Linked DNA regions of Homo sapiens: all the other regions are linked to region 3. Evidence: fine-mapped expression QTL. A gene starts in region 3. Each other region holds a variant in brackets. All regions are shown on one strand. Distances are from middle to middle.

Region 1 (2,757 bases), 66 kb before region 3:
CAGACCAAGGGAGGTTAAGCCAAAGAGGAGGTTGCAACATGATACAAACAATATTTATTAATAGAGAAGGAAAAAGAAACAGCAGAACCCACAGAAAATAAGCATTTGTAGAAGAAAGTGTCAAGACTAAACAGCAACCAAACTGGCAAGGCCACTATTCCCAGAGGAAAACTCACATGAAACTCGTCAACTTTTTCCCAAACAGCAACCCTTATTTTCCACTCATATGGGCCCAACATTTTCAGATAATACATCCATGTGTTCAACAAATATTCACTAAGCACCTAATATATACCAGGCACTGGGCAAACTTGGGCTCACAAAGGATTTGCTGCCTACAGGAGAAAACAGAGCCCTCAACACAGGGCTGCCTTAAGAAAGGTCTAAAGCGACCCATACCCTTTGTTCACCCAAAGTTCACCAACACATTGTTGCAGTACTATTTATAGATCCCAGGAGATACCTCTGGGGGAGGAAAGAACTGATGAAACATACAGCACAGACAACACTAGGTAATAAAGTGTCAGACCAGAAACGTATAAAATGAATGGAAAACACAGACACACAAAAGACAGAACTAAACTAAAATGGAAGGAAAAAGAGTAAATAGAAAGGGACTCGAATGAAAGACAAAATAGCAAAGAAGAGAGGTCAGAGAGGGGTACTGGGAATATGACAGAAAGAAAAAAAAGATGACATTTACAGTAAGAGACAACTGTATCCAAAGTCTTTCAAATGTACTTCTAATATTCCCCAATTTGCTCTAGTTCAATAGATCAACTCTAGCAATGACAAATGATAACTCAATGAACAGAGACTTGATTGTTTATTAACCAAATACCTCAATTTGGGGGAGTGGTTTGATATTTTTTCAAGAAGCACACATTAGCAATTTGAATCACATTGCAACCCTTCCTATAATATGTCATTTCTGGAAACTCAGGAGAGAAATTGCCAACCACTGCTTCTCAGGAAACCCAAAATGTCCTGCCCTTGTCTCCTCCTATTCTCCCGACTCTCTCTCTCACTGAGCTTCTACCCTAGGTAAGCCGACTACCATACAGATGTCACTAGGCATTTCCTAACTTCTTTCCCCTGACCTGGTTTGTATCATCTTATCCTTGATAGGCTAGTACAATAACTTTTTCAACAATGTTCAAGCAGACAGTTTACTTTGTTTTCTAACTTCAAACTAAGAATATTTTCCAAAGGTTGCAGAGACACAGGCTTGGGTACAAAGGGTAAAACTCCACTACAGTCTCTGTGCCAATTACAGCATAGGGTCCAGGGCACATTTTTATTGCTCATGCTTGGAAAAGCACTCCAACTTAAAATCTTACTATATTTTAAGTGGGCTTACCAAAAATTAAACAGGCACCAAACTCTTAAATGAATTAACATTTGTTTTCAAATGCTTCCTGCTGTACCCAAATGCTCCTCCCATGCCCTTCACTCTCACAATAACCTCACAGTCCTTGCTTACA[C/T]GTTTTAGAGGAGCAAAACCTATAAGTACACAGATATCATCTACAAAGCCCCTGCCTGCCCTTCATGGCTGCTGGCACAACTGAAGACATTTACCATTTCAAGATCCTCAAAAGCAGAGGCAATGCAAAGAATGAGGCAATGAAGCCATTTAAATATAGCTATGGCAGGGCCTGGCAATGTTACAGCAAATTAAATTTTAATGGGACACAGAAAATGCTGAACCTTCAGAAAGTTTATCAGAGGAAGGGGCATCTGAAGGACACAAATGCCCCAGGGCCCAGGTGTAGACACAGAGGAATAACTACATGCCAGGACCACTCAAGGTCAAGAATTTGCAAAATATACAGATAACCAGATGTGGGGAGACCAGCCCCTCTGCAAATTTGCTGGCTTTTACTTAGAAGGCAAAGAAAATTGATAAAAGCTACTTCGTGAAGGCTCAGAGAAAACTGATATGTAACAAGGTCAAGTTTCTGTGTCAATGAAAGATGCTGCATACGCAAAGGCAGCTGATCTAAATAAAGCTGCTGACCAATGACCCAGTGACCTCAAAGCTTCCACAGTGTGTCTTCTGAGGCTGTTCTTCAGGGACAGATTCACATATAGGCCCTGTATGGGATTGTTTTCATGTGCTTCTTCAGATTCACTCTACCCTCCTGCTCTGTACTCCAGGAGGCTGCATCAAACCAGCTTCCCTGCCTTCTAGCATCTCACTGGGCATGGCCAATAAGTGTCCCTGGCAAGGGATGGGAGCAAAGAAAGACAGAAAGTAAAGGGAGTTTCCTCCTCTTTCCCAAATGCAGTCTGTGGTCTGGCATTGGTACATCCCTCTGCCTAAGGCAGAGCTCATGTCTGGCGGCCCTGCTCCTATAGTGACAGCCACTTCCTCCCCTTGTTCCAGCAGCTCTGATCTATATGAGTTACAGCAATGGATTGTCCAGACCGCTAGCTTCCCACTGGGCTCAGTCACTGGCAAGCATCTGCAGGATATTAGACAGAAGAAGAGAGAAGGTCCTGCTATTTATTCCTGGACTTCCTCCCTCCATTGTCATCTTGGGCTGCATTCATTCCTTGACTGAAGGTCACAGTCCCGCCCTAACCTTTTCTAGAACCCCATCTGTTCTTGCCAATACAGGCACTTCCCTGATATGCTCTTTAGGACAACTATGGTAGCTAAGGGTATGGATTTTGGCATCATACTATCTGACATGAATTCTCATTTTTTCTAATCAATATCCATATGACCTTGGCCAGTGACCTTCCCTCTTCAGG
Region 2 (2,757 bases), 170 kb before region 3:
CTTGAACCTGGGAGGTGGAGGTTGCAGTGAGCCAAGATCGTGCCACTGTACTCCAACCTGGGTAACAAGAGTGAAACTCCATGTCAAAAAAAAAAGAAAGAAAAAAAGACAAAAATATAAGAGATAACCCAGAGTCATGGATGAATAAATTATTTTAGTGTAAAGCAGGGATCAGCAAACTACTGCCAGAGTTAAATCCAGGCCACTGTCTATTTTGTAAGTAAGTTTTATTCTAATACAGCCACACTTGTTCATTTACATGTTCTCTGTGGCTGTTTTCTGCTCTTCTCACACTACAATGGCAGGATGTGAGTAGCTGAAGCAGAACATATGGCCCATAAATTTGAAAATATTTACTACCTGGCTCTTTGCTAAAAAAGTTTGCCAACCCTGGTATAGATAATAAAGAAGTCACTGCAGATTGGAATAGTCTGGGACATTTCTGGAGAAGGAGGCTAGGTGCTTAAACGGAAGCAGTAAATGAACCAGAAAATAAGTGATAAATAGACAAATGTCCTTTGCTGAGTAACTGTTTATTGGAGGCTTGAAATTTCTTAAGAGTTCTAAAAGGACAAGACCTTCCCAACTGGATAAAACATTATTAAAGAAATGAACTCTCATAGTAAATATCAAAACAGATGGACTAGAAACTAAAGCCCAGGTTTCCTGGGATCTGTCGTATTCAGACCCCAATACTACGCAGAGGTTTGTTTTGGCTGATGGTGGTGGAGGTAGTGGTGATAGTGTCATTTTCACAGATTATCTTGCTTCAAGAGATGCAAAAGTGTCACGTGACAAGTCTGAGCAAAATAGAAATACTAAACCAGAGGTAACAGAAAATCTGGACACAAACCTTGCCCTGTCCATTAATAGGTGACATTCTCTCACCTGCAAAATAGAATAACCATGGGGGGCCAGGGTCAGAATGGGAATCATCATCAAGATGGATTCAATGCTGGGCCAGTATCCAGGACTCCAGCTGATACTCAGGATGTGGTTAGTGCTTGAGACAGAAACAAAGCACCAGGTTGGAACTGATGACACACTGGGTCTCCATATTGTATTGTGCCCTGTCTGTAACCTGAGTCAGATCCAACTGTAAGGGTTACAGATGCTTGTAAATATCCACCCTGCTCTGGCATAAGCTCTGTTTCTCACAGAAAGAAAGGTCCATTTCAGGCTGCAACCTCATCATTTAAGAGAAAAGAACATAGCAAAAAAAAAAAAAAAA[G/AAAAG]GAAATGGACACTATCCCTTCCATGACCTACAATGTCCCTTCTTGGGCCCTAAAGACTTAAGATACTGAACACACACTGAAAACCCAGTAGGACTCATGCCTTCAAAAAACATTAACACAAAAGATACATCTAAAATAAAAAGCATAGTTTAATAAGGCAATAAAAGTACTTAAAATCAAAGTGATAAAAACACTGAATATTTTCAAATGGTTTAAAGACCAATTATTAACAATAAATTATGGCATCAACTGTAGCCACAAGAAATCACCCCAAAATACTTCTATCTAGAATTGAAAGATGTCTTATCACACTCTCATGACTGATTCTGATGAATTTTATTAATATTAAGATCCTGAGCATAGTGGGTACTTAAGTGAACATTTGAGGGGCAGCTGTCCCCACCTTCTCTCATGCCTATCTTGATCTCTTCTTCAAGTGACAACAGCTCAGTATGACTGGTTTCCCTAACCAAGAGAATCCTCTACAATAAAATCAATGAATCAATGCTCAGAAGACTGCATGAGACACCTTCTTCACAAGTGGCTATTTAGGGCTCAATCTTTTTTTTTTTTTTTTGAGATGGAGTCTCACTCTGCTGCCCAGGTTTGAGGGCAGTGGTGTGATCTCAGCTCACTGCAAGCTCCGCCTCCCAGGTTCACGTCATTATCCTGCCTCAACCTCCCGAATAGCTGGGACTACAGGTGCCCACCACCACGCCTGGCCTACTTTTTTGTTTTTTTGGTTTTTTTAGTAGAGATGGGGTTTCACCATGTTAGCCAGGATGGTCTTGATCTCCTGACCTCGTGATCCACAAGCCTCGGCCTCCCAAAGCGCTGGGATTACAGGCATGAGCCATCGTGCCCGGCCTAGGGCTCAATCTTAAAATGACCTCTCCGAAGTCCTTTTCTTTTTTTTTTTTTTTTCCTTGAGATGGAAAAAAAAAGTTCTGTCGGCCAGGCTGAAGTGCAGTGGCATGATCTCAGCTCACTGCAACCTCTGCATCCCAGTTTCAAGTGATTCTCCTGCCTCAGTAGCTGAGATTACAGGTGTCTGCCACCATGCCTGGCTAATTTTTGTATTTTTAGTAGAGATGGGGTTTCACCATGTTGGCTAGGCTGGTCTTGAATCCCTGACCTTAGGTGATCCACCTGGCTCAGCCTATCACAGCCAAAGTCTTTTTCAATTGGCAAAGAACCTAAGCTGCCATCACCAACTATCTGACCATTTAGAGAACTTACTAACAAAAGCATGTGAGTTTCACTGGTTAAAGAATCATGTATTAAAATGGGAGTGTGGTAGAAACAGGAGTAGAAAGTGAACGGGGCTTGTTCCAAACAAAAATTGCAAAATACAAAGTTGATAAAGGCCCCTTTGCTTAAAACTCTTTGTGAGAAATATTTCATCCAAATTTTAACTGTAGCTTCTGTTAACTTTTGGCACTCAATACTTGCTAGGCACCCAAAAGCATAACGACCAATCATTCCCACACAATTTAGTTGTGATCAAATTTACTGGTTAGATTTAT
Region 3 (2,757 bases):
CCGCATTCCCGACCCTCCAAGGCGAAGATCCCCTGGATTCACCCCCTCACTGGCCTTTCCGCCTAACTGACTGAAACCCGGCTCCCCAGGCACAGATTTTCCAGCCTCCCTAAGAAATGAAAGGTTCGCGTGCCCTTCACCTCCCTCCCTGCTTTCCAGCGTCCTCAGCGCCTCCCCGAACAGCCAGACAGTGGAGCGCCCCGTGTTGGGGAGAGGAGGGGAGCAGACGCCTCCGAAGTTTGGAAAAGTTACACAGGGGCTGGGGACTGGGGGTAGGGGGTGCCGACCGGGAGAAGGGGAGGGTCACCTGTTGAGGGAGGGAGGGAAAGTTTGCCTGGCCCCGCCTCCTCCTCGGGGCACCCCGCTCCCAGCCGCGCCGCGCCTCCCCACCTGGCCCGCGCTCACCTTGAGGCCGCGGATCTCGCCGAGGTGCAGCTGCAGGCGGCGGTTCACCTCGCGGATGAGGTTGCTGTGGTCCAGCATCGCGCTCACCTTCTCCGCCTCGGCGCGCCGCAGGCTGCGGATCAGCTCCTCCTTGCTCCACTGCAGCAGCTCCTCGTCCGACACTTTGGACAGGTCCTCCACCGGCGCGGGCGGGGCCGCGGACGAGCCGGCCGGGGCTGGGGAACAACTTTCCGCCGCCGCCGCAGCCGCCGCCGCGCCTCCGGCCGCCTTCGACATGGTATCCGCGGGGTGGCAGGTGCAAGTGGGTGGAAGAGGCGAGGCGACTCCCGAAGGCGCGGGCGCGGCGAGGCCGCCTCCGCCCACACCCCTGTGCGCTCCGGCGAGTCAGCGGCACCGCCCAGGGGCCGCTGGGTTGGGGCGGCGGGGGTCGCGCTGGGTGGCCATCCTACCTCGCCATCCCCGCGCGCGCGCCCGCGCTCCCCCAGGGCCCGGCAGCCAGCCGCTTGCTGCTGCCGAGGCCCGTCCCAACTCCGCGCAAGTCCATGGTGAGGGGCACTGGGGAGCCCGGGGCTGCCGCGGGAAATCCTCGGGGACAGCGGGGGAGCTGCACCGCCGTTCCCCTGCCCTCTCCTCCGCCCTAAGCCGAGACTGTCGCCCCCCGCACTCTCTGCCCTGCACACAGGCGTGCACGCACACGCACTTTCCTCCCCCTTGCCCAGCTGCAGCCCCCGGCTTCTCCCCTCTCCTAGCTTGGAGGGCGCGCCGGGCACCGCGGCGCCTCCCCGGCTGCTCTAGCGACGCCGCCGCGGCTGCCCGAAGGCTGCTGCGCTCCTCCTGCCGCCTTCGCTGCGCCCGCGGCCGCTCCTAGGCTGCTCCGGAAAGCCTTCGATTTGCAGAGCGGAGTCGAGAAGGGGTGGAGGGTGGGGGACCGGCTGGAGGAGGAGCCTGGAGCTGGGGCCACCCGTAACCCGCAGCAGCTCCCGCATGGGCTGGACGCAGCTGCCACTCGACCGCTGCCCGGGCCCTCGAGGTGCGCTCCCGGCTGTCCTGCCCGGGAGGGCTGGGGGCGCGGCTCTTTCTGCGCCCGGGCGGGTGGGGCTGGAATGGGGAGAAGGTGAGGAGCTGTGGCCGCCCGGTCTTTGGGAGGCTCGCGCGCGCCACCGTGTGGCGGAAGAAGCTCCCTCCTCTGCCCTCTGCACACCGGCCTTGTCACCAGGCAGGGGAAACAGCTGCTGACCCAAATGCGAGGTGCTTCGTATTTGGAGGGATCGGGGATCAGGAAAGATGGGGTAGCAGGACCTGAGGGATAACCAGTTATTTGCACTTTGGAGAATGGGAGGAGAGGCAAATGGCAAAAACGGGGGTTGGGGAAAGGGGCAGCTTAAGAAAATCCAAATGGTCTGAAAAGGGCGAAAAGAGGCGTCAGGGCACTGCTCTTATGGGGCTACCCATCCCCACCCCCCACTCTCGCCCCACCCCTAGGCCTTTGTGTTTTCTAAAAATCCACTACTCTATGAAGAAGCTTCGGGAGAAGGTACTGGATCTTTTAAATTTTTATTTGAAAAATATCAAAGCCTTTAGGCGAAAATAAAATACCTTCATCTCCTGCTTCCTGAAACCTGGATTTTAAGGTCAGCACAGTCACCTCCCCTCGGAGCAAAGCAAGCCCCCTCAGGCAAGCTGAAATGCCAGCCAAGGAGATTTCCATTTTCTTCTATGCCGCAGGCTGCCAGGCGTTTACTGGGTCGGCTTTTTTATGATGGTTATTTCTGGAAGGAGGAAGTCTGAGTCCCTGGCTTCTATCTTTGGGCTATCCTCTTGTAAAGTTGGGTGGAATCGTCTCTGGGCTGAAAACATGCTTTTGCCTAAAGAGGTGGATGCCCTTGACCACCGCATGTTATTTCCAGTGGGGTACAGGGCCGGAAAATGGCAAGGATCTACCCCCACCGGGTTTCAGTTAACCCGGGTGCAGAGGGAATAATCTCTATCTGGTAGGATGATAATCAAAATCAGTCCCTTCACCCGCCGGTCAGTGCGTGTCCCCTATTGGGGACACTGAGACCTGGCTCCCGGGAGAGGCAAGGAAATGTGGTACTGCTTACGGTGACCAAATGGCCTTAACATTCCCCTCAGCTTAACTAAACTTTAGACAGGTTTCTTCCTAACTGTAGGCCCCAGACCTTCCTTTTCTCAGAGCATTTACTTTAGCCAACTTCCATTGGTGAATGTTTCCTCTGACCCTTTGACATGTAAATCTCTCCGCCTCTTGCTGGGTTTTACAGCCTGGGGATCTTTCTCAGGGATCTGTGAGGCATCCCTTTGAAATGTAATCATCAAGGAAAAAAGGGTCCC

Which allele goes with the higher level. Positions count from the first base shown, and alleles are read on the strand shown. Sizes are in standard deviations (SD) of each study's normalised expression.
For the expression in thyroid of the gene that starts at base 1,316 in region 3, C is the high allele of the variant in region 1 and T is the other (small effect, 0.27 SD a copy in GTEx).
With allele G in place of AAAAG in region 2, the expression in B cells of the gene that starts at base 1,316 in region 3 is lower (large effect, 0.83 SD a copy in Fairfax 2012).

The links.
Region 1: its variant is fine-mapped to the expression of CCDC85A in thyroid (GTEx, PIP above 0.99).
Region 2: its variant is fine-mapped to the expression of CCDC85A in B cells (Fairfax 2012, PIP 0.92).

What each region holds. Positions count from the first base shown.
Region 1 is chr2:56,248,817-56,251,573 of GRCh38, reverse strand. The region is part of intron 2 of CCDC85A (coiled-coil domain containing 85A); the gene reads right to left. Among named protein-coding and RNA genes, the nearest start is that of CCDC85A, 66 kb to the right of the region's middle. The variant C/T (reference allele first, on the strand shown) is at 1,485.
Region 2 is chr2:56,356,130-56,358,886 of GRCh38, reverse strand. The region is part of intron 3 of CCDC85A (coiled-coil domain containing 85A); the gene reads right to left. Among named protein-coding and RNA genes, the nearest start is that of CCDC85A, 170 kb to the right of the region's middle. The variant G/AAAAG (reference allele first, on the strand shown) is at 1,232.
Region 3 is chr2:56,182,549-56,185,305 of GRCh38, reverse strand. It overlaps CCDC85A (coiled-coil domain containing 85A), which reads right to left and starts at 1,316. Exons shown (of 6, transcript NM_001080433.2): 1 at 406-1,316. The coding sequence starts at 681. All of the region lies in intron 1 of LOC100129434 (a long non-coding RNA gene), which reads left to right. RefSeq lists a silencer at 1,317-1,646.